Linked DNA regions of Homo sapiens: all the other regions are linked to region 1. Evidence: fine-mapped expression QTL. A gene starts in region 1. Each other region holds a variant in brackets. All regions are shown on one strand. Distances are between the middles of the regions. Region 1 holds the start of INSIG1 (insulin induced gene 1). Region 2 overlaps LOC105375588 (a long non-coding RNA gene). Region 3 holds the start of LOC124901783 (a long non-coding RNA gene).

The links.
Region 2: its variant is fine-mapped to the expression of INSIG1 in whole blood (TOPMed, PIP 0.94).
Region 3: its variant is fine-mapped to the expression of INSIG1 in whole blood (TOPMed, PIP above 0.99).

Annotation. Positions count from the first base shown.
Region 1 is chr7:155,293,569-155,300,610 of GRCh38, forward strand. It overlaps INSIG1 (insulin induced gene 1), which reads left to right and starts at 4,310. Exons shown (of 6, transcript NM_005542.6): 1 at 4,310-4,391; 2 at 4,691-5,129. The coding sequence starts at 4,718. INSIG1-DT (INSIG1 divergent transcript) reads right to left here and starts at 5,412. Exons shown (of 2, transcript NR_183448.1): 1 at 4,583-5,412. RefSeq lists enhancers at 3,306-3,355, 5,766-5,835 and a silencer at 3,816-4,645.
Region 2 is chr7:155,257,860-155,264,901 of GRCh38, forward strand. LOC105375588 (a long non-coding RNA gene) reads right to left here. Exons shown (of 5, transcript XR_928227.3): 3 at 6,600-6,826; 4 at 5,600-5,748; 5 at 5,034-5,073. Among named protein-coding and RNA genes, the nearest start is that of INSIG1, 36 kb to the right of the region's middle. The variant T/G (reference allele first, on the strand shown) is at 3,250.
Region 3 is chr7:155,203,058-155,210,099 of GRCh38, forward strand. It overlaps LOC124901783 (a long non-coding RNA gene), which reads left to right and starts at 2,647. Exons shown (of 2, transcript XR_007060603.1): 1 at 2,647-2,770. It overlaps LOC124901786 (a long non-coding RNA gene), which reads right to left and starts at 6,988. Exons shown (of 2, transcript XR_007060606.1): 1 at 6,840-6,988; 2 at 6,075-6,557. RefSeq lists enhancers at 2,209-2,388, 2,399-2,448, 2,479-2,548, 2,579-2,828, 5,758-6,267 and a silencer at 5,902-6,196. The variant G/A (reference allele first, on the strand shown) is at 3,411.

The sequences.
Region 1 (7,042 bases):
GGCAAGTGGAACCCAATGGCGAGGATGTGTGCATCTACACATATCTAAACGTAGAAGAGGTGCAGTAAACATATGGCATTACATGGGCCCACCATCGTATATGCAGCCTATCACTGATGGAAATGTCATCGTGCAGTGTATGACTGTATTAGAATCAGGAAAACTGAAAGAGTTAATGAAGGAGGGGTAAACTGGGGCCAGTAAGAGACGGAAGATAGAGAGCTACCAGATGCATTTCTTTTCTTTCTTTTCCCCCAAAGGACTGTTCTTGCAAGGCATGGTGGGTCTCCACAGCCTGTACAGAAGGTACCCTGTGTGACTAGCAACCACATGTCACGCAACAGCCATGGTCGGCTCAGTGAGGTGACCCTCACCATAGCTTCTCCTTCACTGCTTCACTCACCTCTTTCCCTCACTCTTGGGGGATTGTGCTTTCATGGCAAGTAAGCTAAGGCACTTCCCTTCATAGACAAACACTATTCTGCTTTTGAAAACGATGACATACCACTTCACATCCACTGAGATGGCTAGAATCAAAAACTCAAGGAATAACAAGTGTTGGCAAAGATGTGGAGAAATCAGAACCCTCATACCCTGCTGATGGAGGTTTAAAATCATGCAGCTGCTTTGGAAAAAGTCCAGCAGTTCCTCAAATGATTAAACATAGAGTTACCATGTGACCCAGCAAGTGCACTCCTAGTAACTCCACCCAAGAGAAATGAAGAGCTACACCCACATGGATGAGCTTGTGCACATTTATAGCAACATCATTCGTAATAGCCGAAAAGTGAGAACAACCCAAACGTCCACTAGCTGGTGAACGGATAATCAAAATGTGGCCTCTCCATACAATGGAACATTATTCAGCCATAAAAAGGGATGAAGTGCTGACATATGCTATGACATGGATGAACCTTGAAAACATTATGTCAACAAAGCCAGTCACAAAACATCACATATTATACGATTCCATTCATACGAATGTCCAGAACAGGAAATCCATAGAGACAGGAAGTAGATCAGTGGTTGCCGTGGGCTGGGGGTGGAAGTCGGGATAAGGAGGCAATAACTAAAGCATATGAAGGTCTTTTCTGGGGTGATGAAAATGTTCTAAAATGGACTGTGATGATAGTTGTACAACTCTGTGAATACACAAAAAAACACTGAATTCACCGTTTAAATGGGTGAATTGCACAATGCATGAATTCGCCCTCACTAAAGCTATTAAAAAATGGCGTAGTCTGTATTGATTGCCTTTAAAAGACGTTCATGATCACTTAATAACTGGTTCCACTAATGTGAAGTTGATCCTATTTGTGTTTTTTTAAACACATTTATGGATAGAAAAAATATTTGGAAATACATACCTCAAAATGTTAACAATGGTCATCTCTAGTTGGTAGGATTATAGACTATTTCTTTAAAATATATTTTTCCACGATGTTTTACAATGAGCATGTGATGCTTTTATATGAAAAAATATATATTTGGTAATCTACTTTATCTTAAGAATATTTCTTACAAATGGTTATTAATGTTATAATAAAAAGAACAGTAAGAACAGACTAAAGGCAAGATTGCTCACTACGTGACACCTCCCAGTCTTTAGGCCTTTATGAGTGCATGATTCTTCCGTATCCGAAAGAGCTACAGCCGTCCTGTGCTCCCTTCCGCCAGCCTGTTCAGTACAGAGGCCACCAGTCTGAGGGTTACTTAGTGATCTGGGAAGGCACGGCGAGGTGTTTAACTCAACAATAGTCAACTCCCCTAGAGTAAGGCCACATCTGTGATGATTTCTGTATTGTGGGGCAATTAAGAACTAAACGGTGCCATCATGAGCAGATTTCCCTAAATGCTGAACTCAGAGTGGCTGACAGGGGCTGAAGAGAATGAACCCCATTATCTTCAACACACGGCCCACGATTAGCAGGGAAACAAAATCAACAACAGCTTTGCTTGAGGATAAGCAAATTTCAACCCCTGAAAATCTTGGAATGTGGTTACTGATATGGAGGCTCGGTCTTCAAAGGGGGTATTCAAGGGGGTAAACTCAAACTCTCCCACTGTCTTTACCCCAGGCTGCATTTCTTCATGGGGCCAGACTCCACAGGCACCTGGGCAAACACACATTGGGAACGCAGTGACAATCTCTACCTACGACTCAGAGGCCACGCTGGAGGCCCTCAGCAGGAACCCCACGGGCAACCTTCCCACATTCCCACGGGACATCTTGGTCGGTGTAAGTGCAACAGCCACAGAGCCACAGGGTGCCTCTATGACTCCAGGATCTTCCATGGTTCATAATGTCCCAGTACAGATGAGAGGAGGGACAGAGTCAGAGAGGCTGGGTTGTATGAACACTGGTTTATTAGGTAGATAGGAAAAGAAGAATGAAGTCAATAGTCTTTAGCAAGCCAACTAGCTCAAGGAATAGACAGCCCCTTTCCATTCTGGAGACAACACATAAATCTATTAATATTAAATATTGTCATGAGGTATGCACCTGCCCACAGGGGTATTATGATGGAAATACTGGGGTAGTCTGCAGGGCCAGGTACAAATGACGGGAAACAAAGCCAGAGAAACTGAAATACCTCTTGGACCCCAGAAGACAGATGTACTGATTTCTGGGATGTCAGGAGCCCAGTGCAGAGCAGCTGGATAGGTCGCTAAGAGCTTTCCCTTCTGCTTATCGGGTCTCACACACCTGGATAAACCAGTTATTGAAAGCTGACCTGCTAATGAGAAGCTTCTGGCACTTGCTGGTGTTTCCTAATTGAATGGGTGACTGCCCCGCATCTCAGGGCCGGGGCTCCCGTGCGGACGCCTCTCCATGAGGTTAGCAGCTTGATTTAGATCAGCGTGCGGGACGGGGAGCTCACAGTGGGGTCGAGGAGACACAGCACAGGCTTCTGAAAGGTGCCCTGTCCATTAGGGAGCACCCCATTTACAGATGGGTCATCCTTCAGCTCACTAGTTTCCCAGCGCATGACAGTGGGTAGCTTTTTTTTTTCCTATTATAAACAAATCTTCGATGTGACTGCGATGATCTACGGATGATCTACGTATCTGGTTGTGTGATCCTCAAGCACTTATGCAAGGTGGAGTGTAAACAATGGCCAAGACCCAAACTGCAATGTTCCCTGAAGTCCAACCTGCTTGGAGTCCTTGGGAACGTGTACAATGGTTAACAGGCTTGAGAGGAGTCAGCTGGGAGAGTGAGAGCGAGACTGCCCTGCAGAGGGGCCGCTGAGGATGGACCCCTGTAGGCCGTCCACACCCACCACGCGTGTCATCCTCAGGAAATGCAACCGGATGCTCGGAATTTCGCCCCTAAAGCGACTCAGGGCAGTCTCAGCTCAGGAAGACTTCTTTTTTTGACCTTCTGGCTTAAAGCCACAACCCCAGGCTGAGGATGCCACATCAACGGCGTTTCCTCGCCACGCTGCAGGCGTGACTCACGTTTCTAAGCCTGCAGGGTCCCCGGGCCAAGCGCGGCTACTGAGAGCACAGCGTCCTCCCTCAGCCCCTGCTCATCTGCACGGAGCAAAGCCGCAGCTTTCTCTGCTGTCAGCGCTTTATACGACTCGGATGTAGGCTCTGAGCGGGCACGGGCCCGCCCTCAGACGGCGACCCGAGGGGCAAACAGGATGGAGGCGCGCTCCCTTGGAGGCTGTGGTCTCGATTTTATCTGCTCCTGGGTGGTGCGGGTGGTTTGCTCTCTAGGCGTGAGCAAAGGCCACAAGGGGCCCGAAAAAATCACCCAAGGATGCAAGCCCGCCATTGCGCTGAGCAGGGGCCTCCCCGCCGCCAGAGCCCGCGCCCCTCCAGGGAGGCCCGCGCGATCGAGACCCGCCGCCTCCCGGCCAGGCGCGGGACACCAGGCGAGGGGAGCCAGGAGCCGGGAGGGGCGGCGCCGGGCCCGCAACCCCACCCTGTCCTGCCTCCGCCTCCTCCCGGCAGGACCGTCCCCTCCCAGGCCCCAGCTCCGCGGCCGCCCACTCGCAGCCGGCCAGTCCCGCTCGGGCCCGCGTGCCCCGCAGCCGCCACGCGCCCCGCAGTCCGTGCCGAGGCTCCCGCCCGAGTGCGCGCGGGCCGGCGGTGGCGTGTGCGCACGTCATATGGGCCGCCGGCCTCCCATTGGTTGCGGCCGCCTCACCAGACCGCGTGCGGACGGGCTCGCGGGCGGGGCGGGGCAAGCTCAGGCCACGCCCCTGGGCGGTGCGCGCGGGCGGTGGGTAGGCCGGGCAGGCTCACGTGATGCGGGCCCCGCGGCCCGCCATATAAACCCGCGCGCCCGCCAGGCGCTGCGGCCGTCCCGGGCCGTGACTCCTCCTTTCCCCCGCCCCGCCTCCGTTCGGAGAGCCGGCGGGCGGGCGCCTCTCGGCCAGGTACGCGGCCGGCTGGGATAGGGGTCGCGGGCGGGCTTTGGTCGCGCAGCAGCCGGTCCTCCCCGGAGGTAGGCGGGCGCGGGCCCTGTTGGGTCTTTGGGACGCGGGTCCCGCTGGGGCCGGGGATGCTGCTCGCTGTGAGCGCGGGTCCCGTCCGCCGCTGGCCCCGGGCGGGCGCACGGGGGTCTAACCTTGGGGGGCGGCGCTGCCGCCTGGCCCGGGTGCCGGGGTTCGCGTCCCGCGGGGCCTTCCTCGCTCTTTGTCTCTTCTGAGTGAACTTGATGACCCCCTTCTTCCAGGAAGCGCCTCTTGGACGCGTGTGACCGATGCCCAGATTGCACGACCACTTCTGGAGCTGCTCCTGTGCGCACAGCGCGAGGCGCCGAGGCCCCCCGCGAGCCAGCGCCGCGGGGCTGGCGGCCAAGGTTGGGGAGATGATCAACGTTTCCGTGTCCGGGCCCTCCCTGCTGGCGGCCCACGGTGCCCCGGACGCTGACCCCGCGCCCAGGGGCCGCAGTGCTGCGATGAGCGGCCCCGAGCCCGGCAGCCCCTACCCCAACACCTGGCATCATCGCCTGTTGCAGAGGAGCCTCGTGCTCTTCTCGGTTGGGGTGGTCCTAGCCCTGGTGCTCAACCTGCTGCAGATCCAGAGGAATGTCACTCTCTTCCCCGAGGAGGTGATCGCCACCATCTTTTCCTCCGCCTGGTGGGTCCCTCCCTGCTGCGGGACAGCAGCTGGTGAGTACCCCTCCTGGTTCTTCTGGAAGTAAAAAGGGTGTCTTTTCGGTTGAAAGTACTTTTCAGCCTATAAGAAACATGCATTTGAAACTGGAACTATCCACAGATTGAAAGTGTGCATCTCCAGTCTTGGGATTTAGAGAAATGAAGGAGGGGTAGAGAGGACCTGGCACCCCCGAGGGCGGGTTCGGGCCACAGCTCTCTGAAGTTTGAGGAAGCACAGTGATGGAGATGAGGCAGGGAGATAATTGGCTGTTCAAGCAGGTGCTGTGCCAAGCTGACTGAGGGCCCTTCCCTCCTGGCGTCCGGGTACAGCCCCAGCTGTCATCCCGCGCCAGCCGCCCCGGATTGGCCGCCTGGGGAACTGGTGAGCAGCGGGACTGAAAGGCCATTGGTCGCGGCAGCAAACATGCTACCCTGCTGGATAACTGAAAACAAACCCGTCACATGGGTTCAGGAGGCGGTTGCCAGGGGAGCAACTTCTCAGCACTTCCTTTTGCCGGGTCGCTGAGTAAACTGTGGTCTGAAGCCAAACCGCCTACACCCTGAACTGTTAGAGCTCTGTAGATTACGTTCTTAAGGAAAAGAGTAACCCCCTTACGGCGTTTAGATTTTCGTACACCCAAGCAGTAGCATAGATGCTGTACAACGTAACACTGAGTCAGTCTGAACTGTGGACACGGGGACTGCTGGGTGTGTGTACTAGACTTTCTTGGCTATCATTGAACCGCTTTTATAGAAATGTTGAGTTGATCTTGGCTCAGCAGATCACTTACTGCTCCTGTAGTCACACAGCATTTGTTTATTTAACGAGCTTGTCGGGTGCTTTCTGCAACCTCAACTCTATAAGCTGTTGAAATGTTAATCCAAAAGTGAGCACCACAAGCCCCTATCCTTAAGCAGCTTAGAGTCTGGTGGGGAAAACAAACCAGTATGTCAGTGACTCCAGTGCAGTGCAGGGAGCATCCTGTTTGCTTTGTGGCTGACGTTTGTCAGCTGACTGCTGACCATAGGCTTCAGATGCTTTGCTGTGTTCATTCCTTACAGCAATACCATGTGTAGCTTCATTTATAGATGTGGCAACTGAATCACAGGTGAAGTCACATCCAAGGGTGCGCAGGTAGAAAGGGGCCAAGCCATCGTTGGTAACTGCTCCTGCTGCCTTGGTAGGTGTGTCTCCTGCACTGTGGAAACACATTGCCTCAGTTGACTCACTGAAAACAGCAAGCAGCAGAGAGGTTTGTAGCAGATTAACAGAGGGCTCCGTGTTGAAGAACTAGGACAGGTGTCTGTAATTATTAAGTAGTGGGTAGAATGTTTTCATATTTGTTCTCGGAGGGACGGGATCCTCTTTCGTTTTTCGAAACACTTTATGTGGCTGTACTAATTGAACATTTTTTGAGAACTATATCTAGATTTAAAATTCCATGTTTCATATACATTTGGCAGAATAGTTTCTTTCCTTTAACCAAAAACTTGATCTTAGAAATGAAATAGTTTAGCCTTCAGTATTTGTAATTGGATCCTCAAGGGTTTCTAGGAATATCTGGACAATTTCTCATACTCTCATATTCTACTTTTTTTTAAACCATCAGCCAAGAGCATAAGTAAAATTTTTCATAGTATGTTTTTTACCTATTTATTTATTAAGCTATAGTGAAGTAAAGTTAATTTGGGGGGTCCATTTTTCAGAACTCCAAAATTAGAACCTGATGAAGTATAATAAATTGAAAACAACATTTTTTATCTGAATGTTTGATGCAAACTGTGTTTCTTGTTTCTCAGTTGAACCTAAAATGTATATTTCTTTCATACTACACTGAGGTGAAACAATTGCAGGGTTCTCAAGAGCCCTGGGACACAGTGACCCTTGTGTCCCAGCATCCAACCCCACGGGCCGGCACCCCACTCCC
Region 2 (7,042 bases), 36 kb before region 1:
GTGGTGGGGGAATCTGGCGGCACTGTCCAGGAAGAGCCCCTCTGCCTCCCCGGAAAGCTCCCACCGATGATCCACTGAGATGCACAGACACGACCCAGAGGCCGGCTGGGCTGATCCCACACGTGGCTGGTGGCCAAGGGACTCAGCCGTCCACACCCAGCCACACACAGGAGGCTCGTCCTATGAGACCCTCCTAGGATCCTCGCTCCTGATGTGTCCTCATTCGGCCTGAGCAGTCGCGGCCATCTCGCCTCAGGCTGTCCCCATCTTGCCTCCTACCCACCCCCACGGTCTCCCACTGGCTCGAGCCCCTGCCCTCCCCAGGTCACTTCCAGGTCTGTCTCCATCTGGCTGTGCCACTGTGCTCCCAAGGCCTCCCCAGGGAGCCGTCCCTGCAGGGGACATGTGGCATGGTTTTGCTTTGTAGTCGTGATCTTGGAGAGAGACACTATGCCCTAATCTCAAAGACAGTCCCTAAGGCTGTGAATGTCAGGCCCTTACCAGGCCTGGTGGTAGCAACTATTTCAGAGTAGGCACATTCTTTGGGCTCCTTCCAACCACACGCATGAGTAACACTGGGCCTGCCCAGGGTGAAGATCCAGTGGAAGACATCATGTGGATGAATTCAAGCTGGAAAATAATCCCAATGACATGAATATTTCAACCTAAACTTTGATTTGTACCACAATTATATTTTTTCTGATTACAAAAGTAATGCAATGGCATTGTAAGGGATTAAAGCCTTGTTTTATATGTATATAATTTTTTTTTTTTTGAGACGGAGGCTCGCTCTGTCGCCCAGGCTGGAGTACAGAGGCGCGATCTTGGCTCACTGCAAGCTCCACCTCCTGGGTTCACGCCATTCTCCTGCCTCAGCCTCCCGAGTAGCTGGGACTACAGGCACCCACCACCATGCCCGGCTAATGTTTTGTATTTTCAGTAGAGATGGGGTTTCACCGTGTTAGCCAGGGTGGTCTCAATCTCCTGACCTTGCGATCCACCTGCCTCGGCCTCCCAAAGTGCTGGGATTACAGGCGTGAGCCACCATGCCCGGCCTATATGTATATAATTTTTGTAGACTTGTTCTTTCAATATACCTCCAGGAAGAAACACAGCCTAAATTTACATGAATATGTTTCTGGACTTCTTTCTTCTCCTCCTCCTCCTCCTCCTCCCCTCCTCCTCCTCCTCCCCTCCTCCTCCTCCTCCTTCCCTCCTCCTCCTCCTTCCCTCCTCCTCCTCCTTCCCTCCTCCTCCTCCTTCCCTCCTCCTCCTCCTCCCCTCCTCCTCCTCCTCCCCTCCTCCTCCTCCTTCTTCTTCCTCCTCCTCTCTCTCTCTCTGTCTCTCTGTGTCTCTCTCTCTTCTCTGTGTGTGTGTGGATGTGTGTGTACTCACACAACAGAGCTCTGGAGATGCATGCAGCACACGCATATGTAGATATAACCACTATAAGGACAATATCCTAAGAGCTGAGTGTCCAGGTCACTGATTTTCCTTTCCTTGTTTCGTTGCAAACTCAGGGTGTCACACCTGGGCCGTGTGGAGGCTGAGGGATGGGTGAGGACAGATGGGGATGGGCACCCTGCTGTTGTCTGAGGGCCGTCAGCAAGTCTCTCAATTGGTGATACGTATGGACCTGGGTCCTCATGAGAGCCATCCTAATCTTTTCTCAGTGATGCAACACCGTCTGTTTCCATGCCATCAGTCTTATTACAGGATGATGGCCAAGGAGCTCATCTGAACTGCCAGGTGAACAGTGGGGCCCTACCACATCCCCATCTACCCATAGCTTGGTTTGGGTTCACGGTGCCAAAATCATATCCCCAAGTTATAGTATAGGCTCATTGCCAAGGGAGTTTTCTTGTAAACACTCCCTGGCCCTGGGAACCCTTCTCTGACCTAAAGGAGGCATCGCTGGACTAGGTTCCGGGTAATGCAATCACCTAGTGACCCGTGTCCCCAGCCTGTTCTCAGGTCCTTTGCATTTTCCTCAATGTCCTTCCTGCTCATGCCCTCAGGCCCCTGCTTTTGGGATGTGTGGCCAGCAAGCCCAGTGCAGGAAGTACTGAGCTGCCGACTGCCACTCCACAGAATCACAGGACAGAGCCTCCCAGAGGCAGTAAGTGCAGCGTGGGCTGGAGGAGGCCACCTGCTCCGTTGTGATGAGGGCTGGCCTCTGCTGTGCTTTGATTTATGAGCAATCATGTGTTCACAAAGTACCTACTACTATGTGACCAGTGCAGCAGCCAGCAGGGTCTGCATAACAGTGGCTGCAAGCTCTCCACCCAGACTCCTGCCCTCGTCCATGGGGATGAGGTTGGGGCAGCCTCCATGCAGTTAGCACCTCCTTCCACTCTCCCCCTCCAGCCAGCAGGAGCCACAGTGGGCCACAAGGAGGACTCTGCCCTGAAAGTGGCAGATCCCAGCCCAGGAGAACCTGGGTCCCTGGACGGCAGCCTGGGCCTGCACCCCTGACCCGGGCCGGCCCCCAGGAGCTGTCTTGTCAGCGAGCAGCACCCACGTTTTCAGGTTTCAGCAGCTTAGCTTTATCCTGACCGATGCTTGGCACTCAGGACACGCATCTGCTATCCCTGCTCTCCACTCCCCTAAATCTTGAGGACCGGTGTCCTCTCGGTTATAGCCTAAACTACAAGTGTCATCATCGTCTCTGTGCGTCGGTGGTCAGGAAGTTTGATTGTAGAATATCAGGATGAAACCTTTCCGCCAGCCTCGTTTTCCCTGGACGTGATGTCTGGAGTCAGAGTTAACAAGTCTCCTGCTTCCTGGCTGGAGGCTGCGGTCTTTATTCCTCAGAAGGGGGCCCAGACCGTTCCACTGTTGACATTGTGTCTTCGCAGACGGCTCAGTGGCTCCTTCAGGCTGTGCCCTGCTGTGAATCTCAGCCTCGACTCCAGCCTGGTGCAGGGGTGCAGGGCACAGAGCACACGCCACACAGTCACCGCAGGCCCTGAACCCAGTGGAACCTGCCCTGTGGGGCTGGGGTGTTGCTTAGGACCCGAGACAGCGTCTTCCCTCCAGTTTCTCCCCTTTGGAAGGGGACTGGCTTTCTTCTGCCTGTCCCACCATGGCATTTGGGAAGCAGATAACCTGTTTTCCAGACAGAAGATGCCACACCCTGTGAAGACATAGACTCTCAGGGAGAAGACCCCAGAGGACAGAGGCAGGGCTGGGGGTGACATGTCCACAGCCAAGGAACACCAAAGACACCAAGCCACCATAGTATGCCAG[T/G]AGAGAGGCCTGGAACAGACTCTCCCTCCCACCCTCGGAGGGAGCCTGCCCTGCCGACACCTTGACTTCAAACTTCCGGCTTCCAGGATGACGAGAGCATCAGTTGCCCTCACTTTAAGGTCTCAAGTTCTGTACATTCTGCACATTCCCAGAAAAGGTTGGTCACAGCAGCCTACAGTATTTCAGTTTAGCGTATTCTTCTGTGTTCAGTGCATATTCCCAACACGGTCTAGAACGCCCTTTACTTCACAAGCACAATTCCATAGTAAAACTTAATAATGGTGCTCTGGGCCAGGCCATTTGATCTGGCTGGACTGTGTTCCCTGGCTGTGCCCTGAATGTGTCACCTGCAGCCACACAGGGCGCCCTCTCATTCTTGCACTGACCCAGCTCCTAAACAGCAGCTTTCCAGCAGTGGTTCCTGGACTTCCAGAGAGCTTTTCTGCCACAGTGGACATTGCCATCCTTTTTTTGGCCACCAGGCATCTGAAATCCTTCCCAGTGTTTGGTGAATCCTCCAACTCGTGACACAGGATCTGAACGTAGCTACACTACATTCAGAAAGTGCAGAGGCCAGCACTCGCTTTGCCCACAGGGGCACTCGCACCCATGAGCCTAGCTGCAAGCCTACCCTGCCGGGAAGCTAGTGACTCCCAGAACTCAGACGGCTCAGACACCACCCTGGATGGCCACGCCGTTCCCATGGGCAGAGGTGTCAGCAGGTCTAGCGGCAGCCTGCAGCCTCTAGCCTGAGGTCCCTTCTGTGTGTGCAGCCAGTAGTGCTGGTGGTAGAGACTTCCCTGAGCGGGTCCCAGTGTCCTTTTTCCCAGCATCTTTCTCGCTGTGGTAGGCTAGGAAACTCGTTCTCCTCCCCACGCCACCTCCATTCCTTGAGCTAGACAATATATAATTCTTTTAATAATCGCTTTAATAATTTAAAGGAATATTTAAATACTCTTTTAACAATTCCTTTTCTGCTTCAGTTACCCAGAGCTGTGTTCTGCCACCTCCCACTGAGAACCGTAAGTGGTTCTTTCCTCCGTAAGCACATACTCCTGTTTGACATGAAAATGTCAGCAGAGATTTTTCGGCGTGATCTAAAGAATGCGATCTTGGCGGCCGTCTACCACACAAGGAGGAGGGCACGTGTGGATTTCCTGGCCTTGCACAGTTGGTGATGAAAGCGGAGTTGCCTAGTGATCAGCTGACTTGTGATCAATTACAATAATGATGGAATTTCAAGGTCAATGTCGTGCTGGTTTTTTTTTTTTTGCGAGCTCATCTTTTCTGCTTAAGGAGAAAATGCTAGATAAATGCATCTCCATGTGGGCCTGGACCTCTCCATGTTGCTCTGTCTTGTCTGTGGATGTTTGACAGAGACCGGAAGACCTGCAGACCAGCCTGCCAACACCGTCTGTCAATGGGGTGCCACTTTCACGGCCCTCCCCTTCCCATCAGCCTTAGCCCAAATCACCCTCCAAAATCACCAACCATAGGAAACATCTTTAATGTAAACTAATTCCTTCACACTGAAAATGTTTACAATTTAGCTGGGTGCGGTGGCTCACACCTCTAATCCCAGCACTTTGGGAGGCTGAGGCGGGCAGAAGGCTTGAGGTCAGGAGTTCAAAACCAGTCTGAGCAACATGACGAAACCCTGTCTCCACAAAAAATTTAAAAAATTAGCTGAACATGGTGGCACATGCCTCTGGTCACAGCTACTTGGGAGGCTGAGGTGGGTGGATTGCTTGAAGCTGGGAAGTTGAAACTGCAGTGAGCCAAGATTGCACCACTGCACTCCAGCCTGGGCAGCAGAGAAGGACCCTGTCTCAAAACAAACAAACAAAAACCAAAAATGAAATAAAATGCTTACTGTCGGCCCCCTTTCTCTGCAGAGGTCCAGATGAGGAGCCTCTAATCAAGGTGGTGACTGGGCCACACAGCCACGCCCTTCCCTCGGGGTGAGCCCTTCCCTAGGGGTGAGCCCTTCCCTGGGGTGAGCCCTTCCCTCGGGGTGAATCTTTCCCTTGGGGTGCACCCTTCCCTCGGGGTGAGCACTTCCCTCTGGGTGCAGCCTTTGCTCGGGGTGAGCCCTTCCCTCGGGTTGAGCCCTTACCACAGGGTGCGCCCTTCCCTAGGGGTGAGCCCTTCCCTCGGGGTGAAACTTTCCCTTGGGGTGCGCCCTTCCCTCAGGGTGAGCACTTCCCTCTGGGTGCAGCTTTGGGGTGAACCCTTCCCTCGGGGTGCAGCCTTCACTCAAGGGTGAGCCCTTCCCTGGGGGTGCAGCCTTCGCTGGAGGGTGCATCCTCCCCTCGGGGTGCGCCGTGGCACATGTTGCCTCTCCACTCACTGCTCTTTCTTGGCTGCCTCCTTCCTGGTGAGTCCTTTCCCGCTGTTGCTCACTATCTGCGGATTTCTGATCACTTGTCTTCCCTCTTGAGCTTGGTGAACAGACCAGGAGGAGGGCACAGGATGACCCCCATGGCTCCCCGAACATTTCTAAGACCAAAACCAAAAAGCCCAAGGGGAGAGGACCGGACCCCACTCAGGGCTCAGAAAGCTGATGCCTGGCGCCCCGCAGTGGCGTGGGGTGGTCTTGCGTGGCTGTGGACCCCTCAACCAGGCAGGCGAGAGCAGGGAGGGAAGTGGGTACAAGTGAGCAAGTGTGTGAGTGTGTGGGAGTATGACTGTTAGTGTGTGTGTGTCTGAGTGTATGTGTGACTGTGTATGTGTGTCTGAGTGTTAGTGTGTGTGTGAGTGCGTGGGAGTTTGTGTGTCTGAGTGTAAGTATGTGTGTCTGAGTATATGTGACTGCGTATGTGTGTCTGAGTGTTAGTGTGAGTGTGTGTGTCTGCGTGTTCGCGTGTGTCTGAGTGTATGTGTATGTGTCTGAGTATGTGTGACTGTGTATGTGTGTCTGAGAGTTAGTGTGTGTGTGTCTGCATTTAGTGTGTGAGTGTGTGTCTGAGGGTTAGTGTGTGTGTCTCAGTGTTAGTGTGTGGGAGTGTGTGTGAGTGTGAGTGGGTGTCTGAGTGTTAGTATGTGTCTGAGTGTTAGTGTGGGAGTATGTCTGAGTGTGTGTATCTGTTAGTGTGTGAGCGTATGAGTGTGAGTGTGTGCATGCTGGGAAGAGACATGGGCTAAGAATAAAACACTTTCCCAGAGTGTAGCAAATAATAGCAAAGTTCACCCATCAGTTCTCCTGCCTTAAGCAACTATGGGCTTTCACTCTTCAACTTTCTTCTCTCTCTCTCTCTCTCACACACACACACACACACACACCATGAGACCTCTTCTGAGCTCTCCTGGCAAGGTTGGGCTCCCTGCTGCCCCCATATCCCCTCACTTACACCAAGTTCCGTCCCCCTGACTGGAATGTTTGGGGTGAGAGCCCCTCCTTTGTCCTATTTGCACCAGCGTCAGCTGAACGTGTTAGGAAGTGTGACCGCCGCCTCTCATGGACCCCAGAACAACCTCCTGTTCGCACAGGGGCCCACTCCTAATCTTCTGGAGTTGGCATCATGGGAGATGACCAAACTCTCCTGAAAAGTCTTGCGCAGTACCATGATCAATAAAACTAGGAGAGTATAACAGAACGCTCTGAATTTGGAGCCAGAAAACCTTGATTCAGGTCCTTCATGTGGCCTTGGGCAAATCACTTAACCTTTCTGAGCCTGTACCCTCAACCGTATCTTCCTGTTTCTTAAGATCAATGTGAGGTTTAATGATAAATAACTCTTAAAAGGGCTTTGCATCATGCTTGGGCATTTTGGCTATTCAAGAACCTCGCGCT
Region 3 (7,042 bases), 91 kb before region 1:
GAGTCTGGATCAGGGTTCTGCTGCTGGTGGGTGACCCTGCTGCTGGCTCAGCCCCAATCGGGGGCCTGGCTGCCTCACTCAGATGAGGGGCCGGGCTTCCCTCTCCTGCTTTCCAGTGCTTGGACTGTGGCAGCCACCACACCCACAAGGGAGTTGGTGGTTGATTCCCAAGGGTCCTCATGGTGGAGTTCCCCCTCCCTGCTCTCCCTTGGCCCTGTGGGTGCATTTCCTGGCCTAGGGCTTTGTGGAGTGAACAGTGGCTCCTCCTGCTTTTGTGGGCCCCTAGCCAGTGAGGTGAGGCCAGACCTCCTGAGGGGAGGGTCCCATGTCCCCAGAGTCAGGGGTCGGGGTCAGGGGTTGAGGTCAGTGGGTCAGGTGGGTACATTGCAGTCAGCATGTACTCAGGACTGCCTGTGACCCAGAAAAGGCTTTCTCAGGCCTATTCCCACCCGCACCAGCCTGGAGAGAGCTCTGTCAGGCTGAGGTGGAATTTTCCGGAGCCCCGGGGGCTGTGCAGGTGCGGGAGGGAGAGTCTGTCAGGCTGAGGTGGAATTTTCCAGAGCCCTGGGAGGAGGATTCCCAGCATCAGGTGAGCGGTGACTTCTGACGCACTGTGGAAGCTACAGGCAGGGCTGAGTCGGCGGCAAGGAGCAGGACCTCCTGTTAGAAAGTCCCAGAAAGAAACAAACCCTCGGGGACCACCCAGAAGGCCAGGATCATCCGAGGGGCCGCCCCGTGGGGTCTCCATGGCTGCACGTGCATCCTGAGGCCCAAGTCCTCCTCACAGTGGCTTCACTGGGTGCTGGGACTCTGCAGGGACCGAGCTGTTGGTGCTCCAGCATTCAGGGAGCTCCTGCCTTGGGGTGGACAGACAGCAGGTAAAGAAGCCTCATGCAGGGCAGCAGGGGATACCCTGGGAAGGAAAGTGAGGCAGGAAACAGACACTGGGCCAGTGGCTCCTGGTGAAGGGATGGGCACTCGGGGATCTCGGGGAGGGTCCAGGTGAGGACAGCAAGGGCAGAGGAGCCTGTGGGAGGGGTAAGCACGAGGGAGGCCGAGGCCCTGAGATGTGAGGCCCGCATCCTGCTGCAGGCGCTCTGCCTCCAGCAAGAGGTGGCTCTGGGGGACAGCTCTCCATGGGGGACAGCTCTCCATGGGCTTGGACACCCGTGCTCCCAGACAACAGCTTCTGCCGTGCTCCCAGATGAGAGCCAGAGCCCTGCCTATCGGGAGGCCACACTCATGCCCAAGACTTCTAGGCCTCAGCAGTGCTCCCAAGGGTGTGGCACCAGGTGAAGCAGGGCAGGTGTGTGGACCAGGTGTGCTGGGGGGGCAGAGGGAGGGCAGCACCCCGTGGGCCAGCTACCTCTTGTGTGGGCACACAGCACCTGTGCACTCAAGGTCACCCATGTGCACGCCGCCTCTCCACTCCTGGCAGCAGCCACCCTCGCACCATGTGGCTCTGTGTCCTGGCTCCACAGGGCTCCCTGCTGCTGCCAGGAGCAATTCCTGGAGTCCAGCATGTGGAGGTAGCAGGGCCTCTGCTGGCTTTGGGACTGGACCAGCAGCACTGCAGGTGCCCTGGCTCTCCCACCTGGGCACACCTGAGGCCTCTCGCCCTTATCTCCCAGGGCCCTAGCGGTTCCCCTCCACCATCCCATCCCAAAGCCTCACCTTTCCAGTGTAGCCCCAGGCCCCAGAGCAGGTGTATCCACTTTATTGTACACACAGCATTTGACTCAGAGCCCAAGACATGTATCTGATAGGAATAGGGCTGCTCTGGATGAGGGAGGGGGTGCCCAGCCCCCCAGCCTGGCTCCCCAGCACGCCCACTGCCCTGGCTCTGCGGAGCACCTTCCAGACCATATCAGAAGCCCTCAGGGAGGCCCCTGGACCCTGACATCCCCGAGACCCCCTGAGGGACCCACTTTGCTAGCTGCATGTCTGTGTCACACGGAACTGTCTCCATGCTCTGCAAGCAGGTGGAATGCAGGAGCAGGCAGGAAAACCCAGCTCTTCCAAGTCAGACACTGGAGAGCTCTGCAGACACGAAGACAATGCCATGCCTCCCCCTAAATGCTTTTTGTTTTGGAAAATATAGCTGTTCGTCATAAGGTATTTACGTTGACGTATGACAGGTTTATGATTGTTTTAATGAATTAATAGGTATTTTAAATGCTCTTAGTTTCGATTTCTAGTGTTTCTCATTGGTGATTTCTAACGTGGCATCGTGGCTGCATTCAACCCCCATAAACGCATGCTCCGTGGTGGCCTCCATAGCTCTTCAGACCCAATGTGTGAGTCCCGGGCTCCAGATCGTGTCTCAGCCCCTCCCTGCTCCCTCAGCCAATAGCCTGTGTCCGTGTGGCCCCTCCCCCGAGCTTCCCAGTGACGGAGGAAGGCAGACGCCGCGTGCTTTCCAGGCGCTGTCCTAAGCCCTTTGCAGATATGGAGCCACTTGACCCTCCTATAACGCGTGCAGTGGGTCCTATTACCCCCCCATTTACGGACCAAGGGCAGGGAGGTGGAGACACTGGCTGGAGGCCGCGCAGCAGGGAAGTGGCAGTCAGGAGGCAGCCCAGGCCCTCCCATCCGACTTCAGAGGCCAGACGCACGCCTTCTAGACGCTGACTCACAAGCCAAGTCACTCCTTCCTGACACTCACGCCACCATGTCCTCCCCAAAGTGCATTTGCATTTTAACAGCCATCTTCCGTGAGCTGACTCTGTGGTTTTCAGTCAGTGGTTTCCAGTCGGCTATTTGTCATAAGGTATTTACGCTGACGTATAACAGGATTATGAGTGTTTTAATGAATTAATAGGTATTTTAAATGCTATTTAAATGTACTACCTCAAAAGGCTGAGAAATGTGGGGCCTCTGTGTGGATGTGTCAGTGTGTGTGTCTCTGTGTGTGTCAGCGTGTGTGTCTGTATCAGTGTGTGTGTCTGTGTGAGAGTGCGAGAGTGTGTGTCCGTGAGAGTGTGTCAGTGTACGTGAGTCTGTGTGTCGTGAGTGTGTCTGTGTGTGCCCGCGTGTCAGTGTGTCTGTGTGTGTCAGTGTGTGTGAGTGGTCGAGAGTGTGTCCGTATGTGAATGTGTCAGTGTTTGTGTGTGTGTGTCAGTGTGACAGAGTGTGTGTGTTTGTGCCTGTGTGTCAGTGTGTCTGTGTGTGTCATTGTGTGTTTCTGTGTGTGAGAAAGTGTGTGTCCGTGTGTGTTAGTGTCTGTGTGTGTGTGTGTGAGTGTGTGTGTGCACGCATACACACGCATATAACTCTGCTGTGGCTTCTATAACAAAGTACCGTGGACCGAGCAGCTTGAACAACAGAAACTCCCTTCCCCGCAGTCCTGAGGTCCGGAAATCTGAGATCACGGCGTGGGCAGGGCTGGTTCCTCCTCAGGCCCCTCCGTG[G/A]CCTGCAGACGCCATCCTCTCCCTGTGTCCTCACGTGGTCATCCCTCTGTCAGCGTCTGCTTCCCAACTTTTTCTTCTTAGTCCGTTCTCACCTGGCTATAAAGAAGTCCCTGAGGCTGGGTAATTTATGAAGAAAAGCGCTTTAATTGGCTCAGGGATCTGCAGGCTGTACGGGAAGCGTGACGTCATCTGTCTCTGGGGTGGCCTCAGGAAACGTCCAGTCATGGCGGAAGAAGAAGGGGAAGCCAGCTCATCACAGGGGGAAGCAGGAGTGAGAAAGAGGAGGGGGGATGTGTCACACACTTTTAAAAGACCAGGACTCCTGTGAACCCAGGGCTCGAGCTCACTTATCACCAAGAGGCTAGCCCAGCCATTCATGAGGGATCCACCCCCATGATCCAAACACCTCCCTCCAATCCCCACCTCCAACACTGAGGATCACATTTCCACATGAGATCTGGGCAGGGACAAATACCCAAACTGCATCCTAAAGACACCGGTCAGATTAGATTAGGGCCCACTCCAAAGCCCTCATCTTAGTTTAGTTACCTCTTGAAAGACCCTGTTTCCAAATACAGCCACATTCTGAGGTCCTGGGGGTTAAGACTTCAACATATGGATTTGGGGGATACAACAAACGCCATTTGGGGGTCACAGTGACTGAGGGTGCTCCTGGATTTTGTTGGGGTGATGGTTGAGCAAGGTTGCTATTCACCCTTCAGTAGGTAGGACACCCCCCCAAGGGATATCTACCCAGCAAAACGCCAACAGTGTGCTCTCTCAGGAAGACTTCCTGAAAACAAAGAGCCAGGTAGAATCTCAGCACACGGCAGGTCGCTGGTTGATGTTTTCAAGAAGCAGCTTTGGGGGTTTCCTCAAATCCATCCAATGAGATTCCATCTCTTTTATCTGAGCATCTAGGATGTTCAAGGAGAAACGGCTCCGCTTTTTCCTGCTTCTCCAGGAATCCAGCTTAGTGGGTTTACCTGCCTCTGTCCAAGGTGCTCCGTTGTGAGTAGCCCCTGCCTCTGGGTGTGCAGGTGATTTGGGGACTGAGAGCTGAGGCGCTAAAGTTAAAATGGCTTAACGTGTGTGACTGTGTGTGAATGTGTGTGTGTACGCGTGTGTGCGTGCGTGTGTGTGTCTGTGTGTGGGAATGGGTGTGAGTGTGTATGAGTGTGTGTGGGAATGGGTGTGTGTGGGAGTGCATGTGTGTGGGAATGTGTGGGGGAATGGGTGTGTGTGGGAATGGGTGTGCGTACGTGTGTGTGTGGAAATCGGTGTGTGTGTCTTGTGTGGGAATGGGTGTGTGTGTGGGAATGGGTGTGTGTGTTACAGTGTGTGAGTGTGTGTGTGTGGGAATGGGTGTGAGTGTGTGGGAATGTGAGTGTGTGTGTGGGAATGGGTGTGAGACTGTATGAGTGTGTGTGGGAATGTGTGTGTGGGAATGTGAGTGTGTGTGGGAATGGGTATGTGGGAATGGGTGTGAGTGTGTGGGAACGTGAGTGTGTGGGAATGGGTGTGGGGGGAATGTGAGTGTGGGCATGTGAGTGTGTGAGTGGGAATGGGTGTGAGTGTGTGTGTGGGAACATGAGTGTGTGGGAATGGGTGTGAGGGGGGAATGTGAGTGTGGGCATGTGAGTGTGTGAGTGGGAATGGGTGTGAGTGTGGGTATGAGTGTGTCTGTGTGTGGGGAATGAGTGTGTCTGTGGGGAATGGGTGTGAGTGTGTGTGTATGACTCTGTGTGTGGGAATGGGTGTGAGTGTGTGGGGGGAATGTGAGTGTGTGGGAATGGGTGTGTGTGTATGAGTGTGTCTGTGTGTGGGGAATGGGTGTGTGTCTGTGTGTGTGGGAATGGGTGTGAGAGTGTGTGTGTGTCTGTGGGGGAATGGGTGTGTGTGTGTGTGGGAATGGGCCTGAGTGTGTCTGTGTGTGGGGGGAGGGAATGGGTGTGTGGGGGGAATGGGTGTGTGTGTGTCTGTGTGTGGGGGAATAGGTATGAGTGTGTATGTGTGGGGGGGAATGGGTGTGTGTGTGTGTGTAGGAATGGGTGTGTGGGGGAATGTGAGTGTGTGTGGGAATGGGTGTGTGTGGGAATGGGTGTGTGGGAATGGGTGTGTGTGTGGGAATGGGTGTGAGTGTGTGTGGGAATTGTGTGGGGATGGGTGTGAGTGTGTGTGGGGGAATGTGTGTGGGAATGTGTGTGTGGGGATGGGTGTGAGTGTGTGTGGGGGAATGTGTGTGGGAATGTGTGTGTGGGAATGGGTGTGAGTGTGTGGGAATGTATGTGGGAATGGGTGTGTGTGGGGGAATGGGTGTGTGTGGGAATGTGTGTGTGGGAATGGGTGTGAGTGTGTGTGGGAATGTGAGTGTGTGTGGGGAATGGGTGTGTGGGGGGAATGTGTGTGTGGGAATGGGTGTGTGTGTATGAGTGTGTCTGTGTGGGAATGGGTGTGAGTGGGGAATGTGAGTGTGTGTGGGAATATGTGTGTGTGTATGAGTGTGTCTGTGTGTGGGAATGGGTGTGAGTGTGTGAGAGGCTCTTTCTCAAGACTGTAGGAGTGGGGGCTTCTCCATGGGGACACTTTCAAAGGAGGAAGAAAGAACAAAGGAAGAAGGGTGGATTTCACTCCTTTCCTTGGAAATGAGTCATGACTGAACAATGAATTTGGGGAAATTTTATTGAATTTCATGCCACGGCCTTGGTGCAGGCACCACATGATCTACTACATTCGGGGCACATAGGTGACGCCCCCCAGCTGTGAGGGCAGGTGCCCCGAGACTGGGTGTGTGCTGGGCATTCCTGGCAGGCGTCACGTCCCCTTTGGCGGCAGATTGCTCCTGTGGGGCACTCTCCACCGCCTTCATGGGCCACGGTGAATGCCAGCCGTGACATCGGGGCAAGCTGCCCATCGAGGAAGCCGAGTCGGCTGTCTGCTGACCTGGCAGCCATGCCTGCTGGTGCTTCACTCCCTGCGAGCAAGGGGCTTAGGGACTGCTCTAAAGATTGGGGTCAGAATCCCAGACCCCAGGACCCCCCATCCTGGCCCGTCCTCAGGGAGAGCTGCCAACAGGGTCCCCACCCGTTCCTTCCTCTGCTTTCTTTCCACACTTGGAGCCAGCTTTCTTTTTTGTTGTTACAAAACCTGTATTGAAGAACAACAGACTCTAAGACAGAGGTCCCTCAATGTCATCACCAACCCCATCCGTGTTGGCGTCGGCCCTGTGCCTCCTGTTCCTGCCCGTGTGCATGTTCATTTTTACAGATTTATAATGACAAGAGAGGGTATTGTCCTCTCTTCCCTAAGTTTATGCCACGTGGACCTTCTCATTTTCGCTGGTGCCTTCCTTTCTCAGGAACCTCTTTCCCCCGCTCCCTTCCCCCTACCCTGCTCCATTCCCACCCCTCCCCCGCACCCTGCACACACCTTTCATGCCCCTGCTCCTATGAGCAAACACAGCATGCGTGGGGAGGGTCTTCACTACGGCTTCTCCTCCGCAGCTTGCTTAATTGCTCCGTGGTAATCAGGACCATCTCCCAGTTTGGGAACCGGATTCCTTCTGGGAGGTGGGGGAGCTGGAGGGGTAGGAGCCTCAGAGGAGCTGGAGTCCTGCTGAGACGCCCCACCCC